4 linked regions of the Homo sapiens genome follow. The protein of the gene in region 1 purifies or fractionates together with the protein of each later gene. This does not show direct contact. Each region holds a gene or a part of one and is shown in the gene's direction. Other genes may lie near its edges.

What was found. The genes of interacting proteins can lie anywhere in the genome.
Region 2: the proteins of USP49 (region 1) and IMPG1 purify together in Homo sapiens (affinity purification with mass spectrometry; one large-scale study listed by BioGRID and IntAct). This does not show direct contact.
Region 3: the proteins of USP49 (region 1) and SHPRH purify together in Homo sapiens (affinity purification with mass spectrometry; one large-scale study listed by BioGRID and IntAct). This does not show direct contact.
Region 4: the proteins of USP49 (region 1) and PAX9 purify together in Homo sapiens (affinity purification with western blotting; one study listed by BioGRID). This does not show direct contact.

The regions. Positions count from the first base shown.
Region 1 is NC_000006.12:41,794,376-41,799,897, reverse strand, and holds part of USP49 (ubiquitin carboxyl-terminal hydrolase 49), read left to right. Parts: coding exon 1-68; intron 69-968; coding exon 969-1,174; coding exon of another isoform or gene 1,175-1,221; exon of another isoform or gene 1,222-2,253; intron 2,254-3,174; coding exon 3,175-3,365; 3' UTR 3,366-5,522. UniProt on the Homo sapiens protein: Deubiquitinase that plays a role in several cellular processes including transcriptional regulation, cell cycle progression or innate immunity.
Region 2 is NC_000006.12:76,061,652-76,066,162, reverse strand, and holds part of IMPG1 (interphotoreceptor matrix proteoglycan 1 isoform 1 precursor), read left to right. Parts: intron 1-4,511. UniProt on the Homo sapiens protein: Chondroitin sulfate-, heparin- and hyaluronan-binding protein. May serve to form a basic macromolecular scaffold comprising the insoluble interphotoreceptor matrix.
Region 3 is NC_000006.12:145,942,848-145,947,358, reverse strand, and holds part of SHPRH (E3 ubiquitin-protein ligase SHPRH), read left to right. Parts: intron 1-1,017; coding exon 1,018-1,126; intron 1,127-1,721; coding exon 1,722-1,978; intron 1,979-3,556; coding exon 3,557-4,216; intron 4,217-4,511. UniProt on the Homo sapiens protein: E3 ubiquitin-protein ligase involved in DNA repair.
Region 4 is NC_000014.9:36,668,360-36,672,870, forward strand, and holds part of PAX9 (paired box protein Pax-9), read left to right. Parts: intron 1-4,511. UniProt on the Homo sapiens protein: Transcription factor required for normal development of thymus, parathyroid glands, ultimobranchial bodies, teeth, skeletal elements of skull and larynx as well as distal limbs.

The DNA.
Region 1 (5,522 bases):
GAAGCTAGAAAGCAGTTAATGATCTACAGACTACCTCAGGTTCTCCGGCTGCACCTTAAAAGATTCAGGTGAGCTTGCTGTGGGAGTCCCAGCTGGGTGAGAGCTGTGGGAATAGCTGCTCCAAAGGCTTTGGTGAGGGCAAATGTCTTCTATGGTGTTGGGAGGGGAAGCCTGTTCACTTGAGACCTCGTGTTTTCCATGGAGATTAAACTGTTCACATCCACTAAGGCAAATTGATGTGGGAGCCCAGCAGGACTGGGCTTTTGCTCTCATGCTCCTGTGTAATTAATTATCCAGCCTGCACTGGGTGTCTGTGCTTAAAGATTTTCTAGCCTGGCTTGGACTTATGTAGATTCATCTTCAGGATGAAGTATAAAATAATCTGCAAAAGAAGCACAGGCAGGAAACTACAAAAAGACTGTTGCTTGAATTGCTTGTTTAGGGATCTCTAGGTTTAGAGTACTTCATGGAACATTAACAGCAAATAAATGGGCCAGGCGCAGTGGCTCATGACTGTAACCCTAGAACTTTGGGAGGCCAAGGTAGGCAGATTGCTTGAGCTCAGGAGTTTGAGACCAGCCTCGGCAACATGGTTAAAACCCTGTCTCTACAAAAAATGCAAAAATTAGCCAGGCATGGTGGTGTGCACCTATAGTCCCACCTACTCGGGAGGCTGAGGTGGGGGGATCACCTGAGCTCGGGAAGGTTGAAGCTGCAGTGAGCCTTTATCAATCACACCACTGCACTGCAGCCTGGGCAACAGAGTGAGACCCTGTCTGAAAATAAATAAATAAATAAATAAATAAATAAATAAATAAGTGTGAACATTGATTACCACCATTTTATTGATGGGAAAACCAAAACCAGAAGGTTAAATTTTCTCAGTTTCCTGTTTTATTAATACCTACCTCTACCTACGATTATATATGCCAGTTTTTACTAGTAACAAGCTTATATCCATGTTCTAGGTGGTCTGGCCGTAATCATCGAGAGAAGATTGGGGTCCATGTCGTCTTTGACCAGGTATTAACCATGGAACCTTACTGCTGCAGGGACATGCTCTCCTCTCTTGACAAAGAGACCTTTGCCTATGATCTCTCCGCAGTGGTCATGCATCACGGGAAAGGGTTTGGCTCAGGACACTACACAGCCTATTGCTACAACACAGAGGGAGGTGCGTGCGCTTTACTCTGTGGGGTGGGGGACACGGAAAGGGGTTGATTTGTCCACATTTTATTGTTTTCCTTTTATTTCCATCCCATGGATTACCTAGAGGGAAATTACATACATCAAAAATCCAGTGGAAAGAATTGTGAAAATTGGGTTGGGCGCCGTGGCTCACACCTGTAATCCTAGCGCTTTGGGAGGCCGCGGTGGGTGGATCACCTGAGGTCAGGAGTTCGAGACCAGCCTGGCCAACATGGTTAAACCCCGTCTCTACTAAAATAGTACAAAAATTAGCCGGGCGTGGTGGTGGGCACTGGTAATCCCAGGTACTCAAGAGGCTGAGGCAGGAGAATCGCTTGAACCTGGGAGGCAGAGGTTGCAGTGAGCCAAGATTATGCCACTGCACTTCAGCCTGGGTGACAGAGCAAGACTCTTATCTCAAAAAAAATAAAAAGAATTATGAAAGTTGGATTCAAATTTTGGGTATATTACTAAGTAACAACATATGGTTGTTCTAAGAATTAAAAGGAACTGACATGTAAAAGTGCTTAGAACAGGACCTAGGCCCTGTGCAATGGCTCACACCTGTAATTCCAACACTTTGGGAGGCAGAGGCGGGAGGATTGCTTGAGGCCGAGGGTTCAAGACTAGCCTGGGCAACATAGCGAGACTGCATCTCTACAAAAAATTTAAAAATTATCCAGGTGTAATGGTGTGCACCTGTGATCCTAGCTACTTGGGAGGCTGAGGTGGGAGAATTGCTCAAGCCCAGGAGTTTGAAGTTGCAATGAGCTATGATTTCACCACTGCATTCTAGCCTGGGCAACAGAGTGAGATCCTGACTCAAATAAATAAATAAGAAGAGCAGTTGCCTACCACATAGTACTTATTCAGTCAGTGTTAGAGGATATTGTAGTATTATCAAAAGTATTGGTTATTGATAATATTACTGTTTTGTGGTAATGCTACTTCTGCACACCCCAGTTTCCTTCTTGGTTATGCAGAAACAGTAGAACCTGTGTAACCTCAAGGAGATATTGTATGAATCTCACTAGCCGCAGCTTATAATAAAGCCGAGAACATTTACTGAGCACTTACTATGTTCTTACTACTTCCCCTGCCATGGGAAGTGTGGGGATGCAAGGGCCCCTCCAAAGGAGCTTTAGGTCCTCATCCTCCAGAGTGGAGTCTTCCAGCTACTGCACTGACTGATGGGCTGCAGATGTGTTTTCAGCTGTTCACTCTTCTTGAACTGCACAGCCCTTGGGGCAGCCAGAGCTTGTGAATAAATACTTTTTTGTTCCTTCTAAATTTTCCTTCATCACTCCCCTCTATTTCCATTTCTCCTCTCCTCCTCCTCTTCCTCCTCATCTCCCCATTGCTTAGCCTGCAGTATCGCAGCTCTTTCTAGAAGGCCCTAGTGGACAATGAAAAAGCCTGAAGAAAACAAAGATAAAAATTGCAGTCAGTCGGCTGGGTGCGGTGGCTCACGCCTGTAATCCCAGCACTCTGGGAGGCCGAGGCGGGCGGATCACGAGGTCAGGAGGTCGAGACCATCCTGGCTAACATGGTGAAGCCCCGTCTCTACTAAAAATACAAAGAATTAGCCGGGCGTGGTGGTGGGCACCTGTAGTCCCAGCTACTCGAGAGGCTGAGGCAGGAGAATGGCAGGAGAATGGCGTGAACCTGGGAGGTGGAGCTTGCAGTGAGCCGAGAACCCACCACTGCACTCCAGCCTGGGTGACAGAGCGAGACTCTGTCTCAAAAAAAAAAAAAAAAAAAAAATTGCAGTCAGTCGATAAGCAGTACCGTGGGGCTTGGTGGGGTTAAAGCCAGTGGATACACAAAAGTCTGTCAGTTTCATTTACCTGTCCCTTCCCCACCAATAATCGAGGGTTGGCTCTATTCAGAACTTCTCTGTCCCTTTCTTCATCTCCTGATTTTGCCTGCTGACTAAAATATGAATTGGGTAGTCATTTTCTCTCTTTTTCTCCTTTGGTTTCCTAGGTTTTTGGGTCCACTGCAATGACTCAAAGCTGAATGTATGCAGTGTCGAGGAAGTGTGCAAAACCCAGGCCTACATCCTTTTTTACACTCAAAGAACAGTGCAGGGCAATGCAAGAATCTCAGAAACCCATCTCCAAGCTCAGGTGCAGTCCAGCAACAATGATGAAGGCAGACCACAGACATTTTCCTGAATGGGAGGCATGTATCAAAGACTGGCTTTTGTGTATTGGTGTCCATACATCTTTCCTCTTATAGGAAATAAGGCTACTGCAGGAACAGATTACTAGGTTTGCCTTGCTGGGTCTAGAGTAGAAGGTGCCAGGTGATTCGTGTCCTGTCGTAAATTTTATAGTCTCTTTCTTTTGAATGAGTTTGGGAGTTCCCTCCTTTCCTAAAAACAAAAGAAGTAACTTCTATGAAGATCCTTTCATCAGTTGCTTCTGAATATAGAGGGATCTGGGTGGAGGAAAGCGGGGCGGGGGGGTAAATCAATCATATCCACACAGGAGAGCAGCCATGTTTTCTCTCCATGATGTGATTCCCCTGCTAATCAGGACCTCCTTGCAGCACCAGAAGAACCCTCCGGATGTGAGCAGTCCTGGACAGAGCACGTGAGGAGGGGCCCTGGGCTAGCAGTTTGCTGGATGGGATTGGCTCCAAGATGGGAGATGAAGTCTAAAGGGTTTATTCCCACAAAGGAAGTAACCTTCAAGGGTTTAAAACAAACTTCCTTTTTTGGGGATAGCAGCTGAAGAGTGGAGTGAGATGCATGGAACAAATTTCCCCATGCAAAGTGGGATGGTTTTCATATGTCATACCCTCCCTACTTGCTGCTGTCATATAATCATTCCATACTTCTGAGACTGGCATGAATACCCCTTCATTCTAAAGAAGGGGCAGGTCATATAAAGAAGCAATAGACTAGCACATGTTCCATGCTGAGCCAAAGGACACTCCTGGCTATCTCAGTTCTGTAGCAGATCCCTGGTTCAGGTCTAGGGCAAGCACATGGTTTGGTTTAAATTGATTCTTAGGTTTTCTCAGAACTCAATTGAGGGTGGGCAGAGATAGCTGATGCTCCAGGGCTTATTGAAGGCCTGTCACCCGTTCTCACTTCAGTGCGGCATGCAGCTTCTTAGCCTGCAGCTTCTTTCTTGCTCCTGGAGAGCTAGAACATTCATGTTCACAGGGTTTGGGAGCTTTTGGTTCTCTAGGGTATGTTAACTGCTTAGGAGTCCACCTCGTACATATCTGAAGAGTTGATTACCAATGGCCTTGACCTGTTTCCTCCCAAATCTGATAATCCCTACTGTTGCTTTACCCCCCATACTCAGTCCATCAGAGAAAAAAACAAGAGTGCCCCGTCCTTTCCCCCAGTGCTAGTAAAATACATCTTCCTTTTTAAATTGGGTCAGTTTCTAAACAGAATGAAATTGCCCAGATAAAAACCCTTGTCCCCATCAGGCACCACTTCATTCTTAGTTCTTCACTTAGATTTGCTGGTGAAAGTGAATGCAAACCCTAACTTTTGTTGCTGTGGTCACTGCAGTGAGCCTCACTCAACCTGTCACTATGAATGCTCATCTTTTGACTGAGTATATCATATTAATGTTTGAATTCAGGTAGAAGTACAGTTGTCACTTGAAGGGAGTAGATGTGGAAGGGCGTTCGGGGAGGAGTGGGAAGTGGGGAAAGCCAGGCTAAAGAATGAGGGTTATAGCTTTAGCAATGTTGATGAGCCACATTTCCCACACAGATCTGTAGCATTTGCTGTTGACCTCTTTTGAGATGAACTCTCCCATAGGCCCTGCCAGGCAGCACTGAGACATGGAGGAAATTCAGACAAAAAATGGCTCACCCTGATAGGGAAGGAGTGACTATATTTTAAATTAAACTTGCTTTTTCCAACACTGTGAGGTTTCTGTAATATTTAGCTTTTATTTGGAAGCGATAGCGTATGGCATTTTTTATGCTGTTTGGTTTATATTGTCTACTGCAGGCTTCTTTGTATAAGCTTTGCCTGGGCTCACCCTCTCCTGGACACTGTTTTAAAGTGTCACCGCTGTCCATGCTGCCAGAGGCTCTGATGTGAAGCTGTACTCTCAAGATCCACGTTTTTAAGTCGGCATGATTAGTAATGACTTTTTGTGGCAATAGAAAAGCCCATTAACTCAAAAAAACCAAGGAGAGTAAAAAGGAAAGGAAACTATGAATCGTGCCTCATCTTTCATTGAATCCTATATTTATTATTCTAGAAAAAAAGAACTTACAAGATAGAGAAGAACTAATAGAGCATCTACTTTACCCCTCAGGCTGTCCAGTGGGGATAATTATTAATAAACATTTAA
Region 2 (4,511 bases), about 34 Mb from region 1:
CAGTTGTGTACTTTTATAACACCTGTATTGTATTTATGTTTGTTTTTATGATGGCAAATATTGTTTTTTCATTTCCATATTTAAAATTCCCTTGAGCATTTCTCATAGGGGTGGTCTAGAGGTGACAAATTTTCTTAGCATTTGCTTGTCTGGGAAAGACTTTATTTCCCCTTCATTTATGAAACTTAGTTTTTCAGGGTACAAAATTTATTGTTGACAGTTTTTCTTTATGCAGTCTGAAAATAGGACCTCAGTCTCTTCTGTTTTTAAGGTTTCTGCTGAGAAGTCTGCTGCTAATACTATGAGATTTCACTTATAGGTGATTAGAGGCTTTTCTCTTGCTGATTTTAGGATTTTTTTCTTCACACTGATTTTGGATAATCTGATGACTATATATCTCTGTGAAGTTCATTTTGCAATGGATGTTTCTGGAGTTCTCTGAGCCTCTTATAACTGGATGTCTAAATTTCTAGTAAAATTAGGGAAGTTTTCCTGAATTTCCTAAATTATATTTTCCAATCCTTTTACTTCTTATTTTCCCTCAGAAATACCTATTACATATAGGTTTGGATGTTTTACATAATCCCCCACTTCATGAAGGCTTTGTCCTTTTTAAAATTTTTTTATTCTTGTCTGACTGGGTTAATTCAAAAATCTGCCTTCAAGCTCTGATATTCTTTCTTTCACTTGGTCTAGTCTATTGTTAAAACTTTTTACAGCATTTTGTAATTCCTTCAATGAATTTTTTATTTGCAGACATCCTATCAGGTTTTTTATTTTAAATATTTATCTCTTTAGTAAATTTCTTCTTGAATTGTTTTTCTGATTTCTTTGTATTTGTTTTCAACTTTCTCTTAGAGCTCATTAAGCTTCTTTAAAATTAATATTTTGACTTCTTTATCTGGTATTTCAAAGATTTCATTTTGGTTAAGATCCATTGTGGGAGAGCTAGTGTAATCTTTTGGGGATCCTGTAACCCTCTGTTTTTTCACCAGAGTTTCACAGAGTTTCTTCTTATCTGCATAAACTACCTCTTCTTTCATTTTTGAATTTATTTGCATTTGGACAGGATTTTTTCCCCTTCAGGATGTAACTATAATGTATGTTGTATATACATTATAGTTACATCCTGAAGGGAGAAAAATAGTCTTTTGGCTTTGGTTCTGGGTGCTTTCACTGGCAATGACTCTATATGAGTTCCTTAGTTGTAGGTAGCCTTTGTACTAGGCATGTGAGCAAGTTCATTGTCTCCTATGGTGCCAATATGGCAGAGGTCTCAGGAAGCCAGCACTGTGCACTTGTGCCAGCAGATTGTGTATTAGGTTGTGCAGTTCCATCTCCAGGCCAGCAGGTAGTACTTACTTACTGGTAAGAGCCAGCTGAAGCAGAAGCTGATAGGTATATGCTTGATCTTTGTTTACCAGGAGAGGTTCTCCATTGTTCCAGGCAATGGGCTGATCTATGGAATGCACAGTGGCCTGAGCTCCCTCAGCACCTAAGTGAGAGACAATGCTGTGTGGAGTTGGACTGCCAAGCCCACCCTTGGATACCCCAATGGCAGGCACAAACAAGCCCTAAGAGGGGTGGCAAGGGAAGCTCCCGGTGAAATGTGCTGAGGTCTCCCCAGTGAGGAGAGGGAGCTACCTCAGCTCCATGGCTTGGGCAGGCAGAAACACAGTCTTCTTCCCTGTCATATTCCTGGCCCAGCTCTCAGGACACTCAGATTGTACAGACACCACTGCCTATCTCCAAGCTCCAATTTAGCCAATGGCCATTAAAAAAAAAAAAAAAAGAAAAAAAAATGGTTGCCCCATGGCTCTCCACTAAAATGTCTGTGGTGCAGAACCTCCTCCCTCAGCCCTGTTCTATGCAACAGGAACACTGCCACTCCATGACAGAAGGGGAGACACCTTACCTTTCCTGCAAGCCCCAGCCTGGTAGGCACATAGCCAGCAGGGATGCAGTAATTCCCAATAGCCCTAGAATGGCTGTCCTCCATTCTACCCCTAGAATGGCTGTCCTTTATTCTAGCAAGATTACACATGCCGTAACCTTCAGGAAGAGCAGCCTGTATCCACAACTGTATCCACAACAGTGGGTGGGGTAGGGAGATGAGTAGTCCCCCTCTCCATTCCTGTGCCTCAGCACTGAGGCTGCCTGACTGCTGGGGTGGACCATACTCTTCCCCATAGGGCTGAACACAACACCCACATCTCCTCTAGAAGCAGTGCAGTTACTCTCAGTCCATAAGCGGGAAGCTCTTGAGCACCAGAAAGCACACACTCTGGGTTCCTTTGTGCAAAGGGGTGCTCCCTTGGTGCACTGCACTCTTTTCCTTTAGGAGCAGCACTCCCTGAGGGCTGGAACAAGAGGAATACTGCAGCTCTCTTGGAGTCACCCAGCCCTATGTGGCTGCTGCAATTTTAGCAGATGCTGGGGAATGCCTGTGAGGAATTGGCAATGTGGAAACACAAGGGCTGAGATTTCCTGGGCAGAACTCAGTCATTCAATGGATGCAGCCCAAGAATCGTGCCTGCCACTGCAGTTTGGGTAGAGAAGGAGGACAAGCAACCCTGTACATGCTGGTATACTAGTGCAATGCCCTCAAGAAGTCACCAAATCACTGCCACACCAGTGTTTGGGTTCATGAGGACAGAGGAGCTCTCTGACATTTCAGATACCAAGGATCTGCCACCAGGGCAAGGAGAAACAAAAACACTCCCGCTAATCCTTTTCATGAAATACCAAGCCCCTCTGGGTTTCATCTCTGACAACCTCTTGCTTCCTTCTTTTCCTGTGCCCTAGTTTCTTCTGGTGAGTTCTCCTCTAGGCTCCAGCACTTTCCTCTTGAAATTCTGTGTAAAATCATTCAACTGTAACTTTGAGTCTTCTTTCTTTTTCTTTCTTATTTTATTTTAATTTAATTTATTTCATTTTATTTATTTTATTTTATTTTTTTGAGATGGAGTCTCACTTTATCACCCAGGCTGGAATGCAGTGGCACCGTCTCAGCTCACTACAACCTCTGCCTCCTGTGTTCCAGCGATTCGCCTGCCTCAGCCTCCCAAGTAGCTGTGACTACAGGTGCCTGCCACCATGCCTGGCTAATTTTTGTATTTTCAGTAGAGGCAGGGTTTCACTATATTGGCCAGGCTGGTCTCGAACTCCTGACCTCAAATAATCCACTCACCTCGGCCTCCTAAAGTGCTGGGATTACAGGCGTGAGCCACCCCAAGTCTTCTTTCTAAGGAGAACTGGCATCCATTCTCTCCAGTTAGCCATACTAGGGGAAAAAAAAAAAAAAAAACCTAACTTGCTACTCATTTAGGGCTTTTTATTTCATAAGTATCTTAGATGTGTTAGATCTGTGAATATATGTTAATCTTCAATTATTGAGGTCTATATTAATTAAAGTTTTACCTCAGCCAACTGGTTTCTTATTTGTAACCAATTAACCACCATGAGTGTATTTACATAGAAAAGTGTTTGGGGAGAGAAAAGAAAGGTTCAATTCAACACAACTAGCTGGTAAGCATAACGATTGGGTGTTTAGCTAAATTCAACGTTTCATTTTAAAAGATGAGTAGTTTTGAAAAAATAGGAGATGAAAATTACCAATAGTAGTTCCATCCAAACACAACCTATGCCAGCACTACTTTTTCTAGGTATGTGTATTTAATTTTTACATAATTGCAGTTCTACCACACACAAATTTTATATCAGCCTTTTTGTAGTTTTATTATGTCATATAAATGTTCTACATTGCCATCTAATTTTGACAAGCATCATTTTATTGGCTGCATAATGTTTCTTTCAGTAAATGTGTCAAGATTTGCTTTATCTAAATATTCAACAAAAGAAAACTAATTGTTACTAATTATTTTGTTATGGCAAATAACATTGCAATAAAGAGCTTTGCACATAAGCCTCAGTATTTAAGACTCAGCATAAATTCACTGAAGTAAAATTATTGAGTCAAAGCAATGTAAACAGCTTTATGGTATTTGATTCATATTGCCAAATTGTTTCTCAAAAGTTTTCCTATGCCCTTAGATGACTTTTTACCAATTTGATTCTACAGAATGCTTACCATATACCCAATACTGTGCTAGATACAGAATATACAATGATTTAAAGACATGCCAATATTTCAAAAGGCTTCTTTTAAGTTTTGCAGATTCTGAATGTAGTTTTTCACAGATACATAAAGGTGAGATAGCTTTGATTTCAAAATATTCATTAAATAAAATTGTTTTAGCACAAAAAAAGACAGTTGAAGAGCTCAAAGAACAATTACTTCAAAAAGACACCAAGGCTCCTTTCTTTGAGGTTCATAATGGAAATACCAGTTGCATCTGATATGTGCATCACTGCTTTTATGTTCTTACTTTTCCATTTCACCTAAATAATTTCATTTAATTGCTTGTGACATTCAATGTATAAGAGAAAGAGAAAAAAGAAAATTTACCCTTGCCAAGTCCTAAAATGGAAATAATGTTTATCTTAGTATG
Region 3 (4,511 bases), about 100 Mb from region 1:
GTTAACTTCAAGTGGGCAGAGAGAATGGGGTGTTTGTGACCCAGAAGGTTTATTTTTGAAGTAATGTTGGCCAACTAGGAAGAGAATTTGTGATCACTTACTGAACTTTCTTCTAGTTGGCAGAGAAACTCCTTTACAAAAGTACTGTTGACTCCTCAAATGTTTTGTCACTAATAAAGTCTCCATATTACTACTAAATATTTTTAAGAGCTATTTAAAAATGTTATACAAATCTCATATATATAAATCTTAGAACCAAATAATTAGAACTTTGTTAAAGAACAAGTAGCTTAGTAAATAGATTGCTAAATGAAACAAACTTCAAGTCCTTGTCCCAAAATACATAATTGTGTTTAAAAATATAAATTTTAGAGTTACAGAAACAAAGTCCACTAAGGCAAATATAGTATATAGCTCATATTTTCTAGTAATGAAATCTGAAATCAGCCCTTACATTAAATCTTGCTGAAATGAAGTCAGTAGTTAAAGGTATAATTATAATTAATTACCTCTAGGACCCACCAGTCTCACAGCTTTAGCATTATGTTATCTTTCAGTAGGGTCAAGTTTGCAGAATTAGCCTTTCAGATTTGAGTAGAAAATTTAAAAAAAAAATGTTTTTTTTGTAGACAAATGACTTGGAATATATTGACTTAACTATCAGTAACTTCTTTCTGAGATTTCCTACTCATTACTATTTTAATTCCAAGTTATTTTCATATTATTATAAATTCAATGGGTTAATTTTATATTTAAATATACCTTTAAAAGTTAATTTCAGAGGTTCCACACATAACATTTAGGTAATTTAAGATAATATGCACAATTTTTTAAGTGATAGCTAGCTGTAAACTCAGAAATAAAACTGTGTATGTATCTACAGCTATTTGGCCCTTTCTCTTGCAATTTTTTTAGAACTGTTTTGCATTTCCATAAAGAAGGAAAGTTAATTTCAATAAGCAATTCAGAATACTGAAAGCAAAACACTGTGTAACTACTGACTGTTGTTTGTATCAGGGAAAAGTGGTGAATTATTTTATTCCGTCACATTATTTTGGAGGAAAACTGAAAAAGACAGAAATCCAGAATATCGAATTTGAACCAAAAGAAAAAGTTCAATGCCCTCGTAAGTAAGACATCTCTTAAAGGAAATACCTTCTTATAGTGATCTTTGCTAGAGTTCTTGCAATCCTTAGAGATATCTTGTAATTGTTATAAACAATTGTTTTTACAGTTATATATGCTTTTGATAAATGAATTCAATTACAAGTCATAATATCTTAACAAAAGTAAAGATGTATTATTTTGTTTGACTTGGCCCAGGTAGTTCTTGCTCAGTCTGTTATATTTAAATCTCTTTAGCTTACAGTTTAAACCAGGCTTTATTTATCTTTTAGGAAATGAATGTTTCGCATACTAATGGTAGCGTATACTTAAATAATTGTGAGAGTTTTCTTTTATAATTTTGAATGATTGTTTTATAGTATTAACAATTCAATATGAGTAATTCTTCCTTTGATTATTTTTATTACAGTAATTTGTTTCTTAATATGCTGAGATACATTTTTATTACATATTTTTTCAAAATGGCACTCTGCTGTAATAAATCTTTGATTTATTTCTTTCTTAACTCAGTCCTCATGCAGATTAAGATTAACCAAGTTTTACTTTCTTTTCATTTTAATTATTTTGACTGATTTAGCATATCCTTTTACATTTAGCTACACGTGTGATGATACTGACAGCTGTGAAAGAAATGAATGGAAAAAAAGGAGTGTCCATCCTTTCCATCTATAAGTATGTCAGTTCTATATATAGATACGATGTTCAACGGAACAGGAGTCTTTTGAAACGGATGCTGAAATGTTTAATTTTTGAAGGTCTCGTGAAACAGATCAAAGGCCATGGTTTTTCTGGGACTTTTACATTGGGAAAGAATTACAAGGAAGAGGATATATGTGATAAAACAAAAAAGCAGGTAACAGAGCTTAAGTTCAGCTCTATATTAAGTACACGTATGTGATACCTTACTGAGTACATTGACAGATCCCACCTTGAAACTGAAACTCTTACGATCTGAAGATAAAAAAATAGGAAAAGTACTTATATCTGTAACTTCTACTTTCTACTTTGTGGATATAAACTCCGTGAGAGTAACTTTACTTTGGCTATCATTAAACCTAGAGAATAATGCTTGGCACGTAACAAATACTCAGATATTTATTGAGTGAATTAAAAAACTAGTTGGCTAAGCGTATTATAGAGTATAAAGCATCTTCTGTATTATTTATTTTTATTATTTTTTTAAGACACAGGGCATCTATTGCCCTGGCTAGAATGCAGTGGTCATAGCTAGCTGCAGCCTTGAACTCCTGTGCCAAGCTGTCATCTTGCCTTAGCTTCCCAAGTAGTTGTGAGTACAGGCTCATGTCACCATGCCTGGTTAATTTTTCTTGTTTTTTTGTAGAGACGGGGTTCTCACTATGTTGCCCAGGCAGGTCTGGAACTTCTAAATTCTCATTTTCTTTATATTATTATCTTATACAATTTCTGCATTTTGTTAGAAAACTGCTTCTGTTGGGCCAGTAATTTCAATTTGCTTTTAGGAAAATAGTTATAATATTTGCAATCATAAATAAAGATTAATGACAACAAGTCAAAATGTGGAGCTACCAGCTCGGCCACCAAGAAAAAGACAAAAAATTTATTTTCTGGAGTAGGGAGTCTATATTATCCTTGGGTAGCACTGAAGACAGCAGTGAACTGTGCTTTTGGTAATCCTGCTACCACCAAAACTAGAAGATTTCCCTCAGTTAATGCCATTGATTACATGTTGTGTCTTAACTCCCCTGTTCGACCTCAGCCCTGATATGCCTTGGAGGAAGCTGTCCCTATTAACTACCTGCCTATCATACTCCCACTATGTTGTACAACCCTCTTAGGTATTCCCATAGCATCATTTTACTTTTTACTGTTCTCACTTTTCCAGTAGACCCCTTTGAAACCGGGGGCCAAATATTGTTCATATTTGTGTCCCTAGCATCTAACACAACTACTGGCACAGAATTGGCATTTAATAAGTAATTGTAAGAGAGGACATATGTAGAAAAGGGAAGGAAAGAAGGAATCAATTTGCTAATTGCAGTAACCAGTGGATTATCTTTTACTTTCTTTGGATGCTATATTTTAGTACTTGGTGTTTTTGTAGTTGCCCTGATTTGTATATTTATGTACTCGAAAAGTACTAGTCTTGTATTGATTTAGGTAGACTAAATCATAGTAGGTAAATAACAAAATATCAGTAGCTTCCTTTATCTTTCTAATTTTTCATCTCTCCAAATCTGACACTTGTAGAGCCTTCCTTTTGTTTTGAGATGAAGTGAGGGTCCTTACAGAGGGCAGATTGGAAGCCACTTATCAGGAGTGATTCTCCTCAGGGAAAAGGGTAGCAAAGACTGGCTGCTACATAATTATATGAAGTACTTACATAAAGTCAGGAGTTTAATTTCAGAAATGCAACTAGTTGCAATCAATTAATTAAATATTTTTTTCATAGGCAGTAGGGAGTCCAAGGAAAATTCAGAAAGAAACTAGAAAATCAGGGAACAAGGACACAGATTCTGAATACTTGCCATCAGACACCTCTGATGATGATGATGATCCTTACTATTATTATTATAAGTCCAGGAGAAATCGCAGTAAATTGAGGAAAAAGCTTGTTCCATCCACAAAAAAAGGAAAAAGTCAACCATTTATCAATCCCGATTCACAAGGTCACTGTCCAGCTACTAGCGACTCTGGAATAACTGATGTTGCTATGTCTAAAAGTACATGTATCTCTGAATTCAACCAAGAACATGAAACAGAGGACTGTGCTGAATCTCTAAATCATGCTGATAGTGATGTACCACCTTCTAATACCATGAGTCCCTTTAACACCTCTGATTACCGCTTTGAGTGTATATGTGGTGAACTTGATCAGATAGATCGTAAGCCTCGTGTTCAATGCCTGAAGTGTCACCTGTGGCAACATGCAAAGTGTGTGAATTATGATGAGAAAAATCTGAAGATCAAGCCTTTTTACTGCCCCCACTGCCTTGTTGCAATGGAACCAGTGTCAACAAGAGCAACTCTGATCATCTCTCCAAGTTCCATCTGTCACCAGTGGGTGGATGAGATCAACAGGCATGTGAGGTCGTCATCTCTTCGAGTCTTGGTAAGGCCACTTGGACTAAAGAGGGAGAGGAAAATGTAAAGTTTTGCTTCTTCATGATAGTTTCCTAATCTTTGTTTCTTTGTGGTTTATCCTCAAAACTAACTGAATGATTTAATAGTAATGTTAAATCAAAGCTTAAAGAAAAAAATTGAGACTAAGAACTAGAACAGTACAATGTTATTCTTTTCTAACATCAGAATTTCACCAATTAAAGCATTTTGAGTATAAAGATGTGGAAGCTTTTTAAAAATTCTTGAGTATGTAAATGAGAAATTCTTGGTATAAGCATTTATAG
Region 4 (4,511 bases), on another chromosome or scaffold:
ATAATCCCAAAAAAAACCCTTTATACTTATTATTTATTTATTTATTTTGAGACGGAGTCTAGCTCTGTCGCCAGGTTGGAGTGCAGTGGCGCGATCTCTACTTATTGCAGCCTCTGCCTCCCGGGTTCAAGCGGTTCTCCTGCCTCAGCCTCCTGAGTAGCTGGGATTACAGGCACGCGCCGCCACACCCACCTAATTTTTGTGTTTTTAGTAGAGAGAGGGTTTCACCATGTTGGCCTGGCTGGTCTTGATCTCCTGACCTCGTGATCCACCCACCTCGGCCTCCCAAAGTGCTGGGATTACAGGCGTGAGCCACCGTGCCGGCCAGTAATTTTTATTTTCTCTTCCTTGAATTATAGATCTAACATTGAAATTTGTTTGGAAATGCTTAATTTATAATACACTTCAAAACTAAACTGACAAATTATTTAAAATAAAAAATTTGAAGTTTTAAATAATTGATATTCTGATTATTAAAAATAGATTACATTTTATATACTAAATTTTAAATCACTAAATTATCACATTTATAAAAGAATATAATTTAAAGAAATAAGTAACCAAATAAATATTGCTCTAAATACTTAATAAGCTATTTTTTCCAGAATAAAAATATTTATATGAAACTTACATTTGCGAAGTTCTTAATTGCAATATGCTAATCTTCTGCATTGCAATGTATTTAATAGTTAGATAATTCAAATGATGTAAAATTTCAAAACCTGAAAAGTTTCTAAGAATAATATAAATTAGTGGCTACTCTATGATAATTATCAAAATAGTGCTTAATGTTGAAGATGTGCCAAGTTCAGCCGTGCCATTTTTCTGAGCAGTTTTGAACTTTAGACATTGATTTCATGTAAGGTTAAATTGCACATTAATACTTGTTTATAAACATACAAAGGTAAAGTGTTGCCCATATATGTGCATTTCTCTTACCAATATTCAAAGGGCAGATTTATTTTTAAAAGTTATTTTTCAAAATGGAATCAGCATATTTCAACCAAAATGTAAACTCTGGTAACACGTATTTTTCCCTCTGCTTATATTATGGACAATAACTTGAATGTCTTTGGCCAAAAAAAAGCTTTAAAATTTTTCCCACTTTCAGGGCATTTGTGATTGTTATTAAATAGTGCAAAATTATATGATACTAGTTTAATTTTATTATACAAAGAAGGAAATTGAGAATTCAGAATCATAGAGCTTAAAGCATATTTTTCTTGAGGACATCTGTAGAATTACCAAAGGGCTAAACTATGCAACTGAGTATAGATACTATTGATTACCATAATCTAGAGTTTCTATTTTCAGCTTAAACTGTAAAGACAGATGTCCTGATTCCTAGTAATTAAAACTGTATGCACATTTCAGCTATGCATATACCTATCTTTTGTCTTTGAAAATTCAGTGTAGAATATTCTAACTTGTCTTACATATTAATATTACATTGTAATTAATATTTTGCAGTGCCATTCAGAAGTCCTTATTGTCTCTGAGGATAGAATATTTATTTTGGCTTTTTTATACCCACAGTTAATATTGGGGCTAGAAGTACTTAATTCCATTTACTTCTGAATGGCAACAATGTTCTCTGCTTCCTGATGGCCGGTTCTCTTCTGTTGAAAGCATAAAACTCCAATGGAATAAAATTGAGTGGCCAAAAAACCTTATATAGAGAATCATAGGGACTGGAATACATTTGCCCTTTTAGGAAGTATTTCATGAATTAATGCCTCAATTTTATTCAAACTATATATAAATAATTGTATAGTTCTTGAAAAATTTTCTACAAATGGGCATACTGTCTCAAGAAAGATACATTGCATATCTGATACTCTAAAGTAATTGGAGTGACAGATTTATAAGCTTTGGGTATCTTCATTTTGGGGTTGCAGATATTAATTTGGCAAGTTTAATATAACACTAGCTACAGACTGAGATGTCAGAAATAGAGAATAGTCTATAAATACTTGAACTTTTTAAAAGTTCAGAATTAAGTTGTGAAAATAGTTGAATTTAAAGATATAATCTGAAATTCTTATGAAGCATTTACTTGCACATGCATTTGAAGTGAAGATAGTCTTCTAGAATCCTGAATGTGATTTTCTAGTGTATTATTTTAAAAACTGGCTGTCCTTGTGGATGTACTATTCTCAGGAAGATATAAATGATATTGCACTAAATTTGTCTTCATATTAAAGTTAATTTTTGTAAATAAGTTATGATTTATAGACAATGAAATCTTAGGCAAATGCCAGCAGAGTGTCTTTGAAATTCATAATGTTATCTGTTATGAAAAACATTCTTTGACCTGGTTACATTTTAACCAGTAGTATTTCAAAATAAAATTAATGATCATGTATCAGTAAAATGTATTGTATAAAATAGCAGGGAAAGGTAATTGCAAATTTTTCAAGGCTATGTCAATTTTAATAATATTTTGGAAAATTATAAAATTTAGAAAAGCTTTTAAATAGCGGCTTTCCATTTCTTAGAGACATTTACATCTACAATATGATAAGTAAGCATAATTAAGATCTTGTTGGATGAATGTTGAAACCATATTTATAACCATCATTTCATTTTGTCAGGTATGTTTTACTAGGTCATTGCATAATGCATTAAAAATGGAAGAATGACAGAAAAATGAGTTCACCAAAAAAGAGAAAATCTTGTTTATTTTCAGATCCAAAACTTTTTCTTGCTTATGATATCGAGGTTGAAATTCTAGGTGAAGCACATCTCTATTTGTGGCTAAATCTACTTTATTATAAAGCCAAGGTAAATTCATTTTATCATAAGAGGACCAGGTTGAACTGATAAGTGAAAGCAGATTGTGGGTAGAGGACCTGGCACTGTTATTTGCATTTATCTTCACGATAAATAATGTTGAGTAGACAATTCCCAGAATTTGAATAATGGTCTATAACCTCTAACTGCCAGACATTTGCCATACCAGTTTTATGGTGGTCACAAGTGTTTTGATACTAACGTATTTTCCTTTACTTGGAGGAGGGAGGATAAATGGAATAACCATAAATCAAGTAATAAATGGCTAGGTTAGAACTTCTGTTTACTTTTTTCAACAGCTTTATTCATTTTGCTTGCTTAAAGTGTAATGCTTGTTTTGTGATAAACGGTGCCTACATTTTTGCTTTGTTTTTTAAGCTACAGTGTCACATCTTTTGCTTTCACAAACCTATACTAACTTAAATATACATATGGTTGTGGAATGCTTATGATGTATCCTGTTTTGTGGGGATACAAGATGATTAAGGCAAGTCCCTGTCCTCAGACAGTTTACAATCTAGCCCTCTGCCAATACAGTTCCTCAACATATTCACCAAAGTTACTTTTAAAAAATTGGTAAATCTGTATTTTGAACATTTGGAACAAACGAAATTAAAACTTGTACTTTCATTCTTCTTGTGATAACCTTAACTAGAAGAACTACATTGCATCTTATATATTTTTTTCTAGACTATTTCCGTTAATGTCAGTGTGATGAAGTTGGTCTTTTCCTAAAAGTATTAAAACAAAGCAGTAACTTACTTTTTCTAGGGTATGCAATTTAGTCTATTTTGCTTTGTATTAGTAAATCTCCTTCTCAAATTTAGGTAGAAGATAGTTTGCTATAGAGAGCACCCTTGCACAGTTCTTTCAGGGGAAAGAATTCTCATGCCTTTCATGGAAGATCCACATGAGAAAGGAGTTGATGGATTGAAGTCTTATTTATGGAATCTTTAGGTAAAGTCATTTTCAAAAATGAGATTTCCATTACATGCCCATTGCTGGGGTTTCATTTGGAAAATTTGTTTACTCTTCCCTGGGGATTCCGTATGTTGGTTGATTTATAAATCATATTTACAATCCAATTAAATAGAGTAATTTAGCATGTTTGCTCCCACTATATTTATAGTGTAGATTTGGTAGTCTCTACTCAGCCTAACTAGCTTTTCAGATTAATTACATGCCCTTCACTGAAAACATTAAACCGATTTGGGACGTTTAAGTCATGTACTCTTTTACTGGAAAGAATAAACAAACATCAATGCTACCTGTAGTTGTTTTCCTTTGCGGTGGAAAATTTTACTTTTTCAGTGATTGCTTCATAAATAACAATTACTTGACCCAGTAGAGATTTATATCTTTTACTAATGTTATGTGTCAAAATTAATAGTGAGAAAATTGATGTGTTTATTGAGTCACTAAAATGAATAAATAATGAAGGTGGCAGGAGGCAGGTAAATTTTAAAGCACATTTACTTGCTCCTTTTTTTTCTAAATTTATAAATCTGAGCTTCAAAAGTAAAAAGTAAAATTAAGACAAAACTCTCCAGACCCCCAAGCTAGGGTCATAATTTAACCTGAGAGAAAACTAAGGGCTATTTTTATACTGTTTAAGTTTAAAGATTTATGTTTGTTTTTTTTTTTAAGCAAACGTTTTAGCCTCTCCTTGCCTTTTTCTTTTTTCTTTCTTTCTTTCTTCCTTTTTTTTTTTTTTTTTT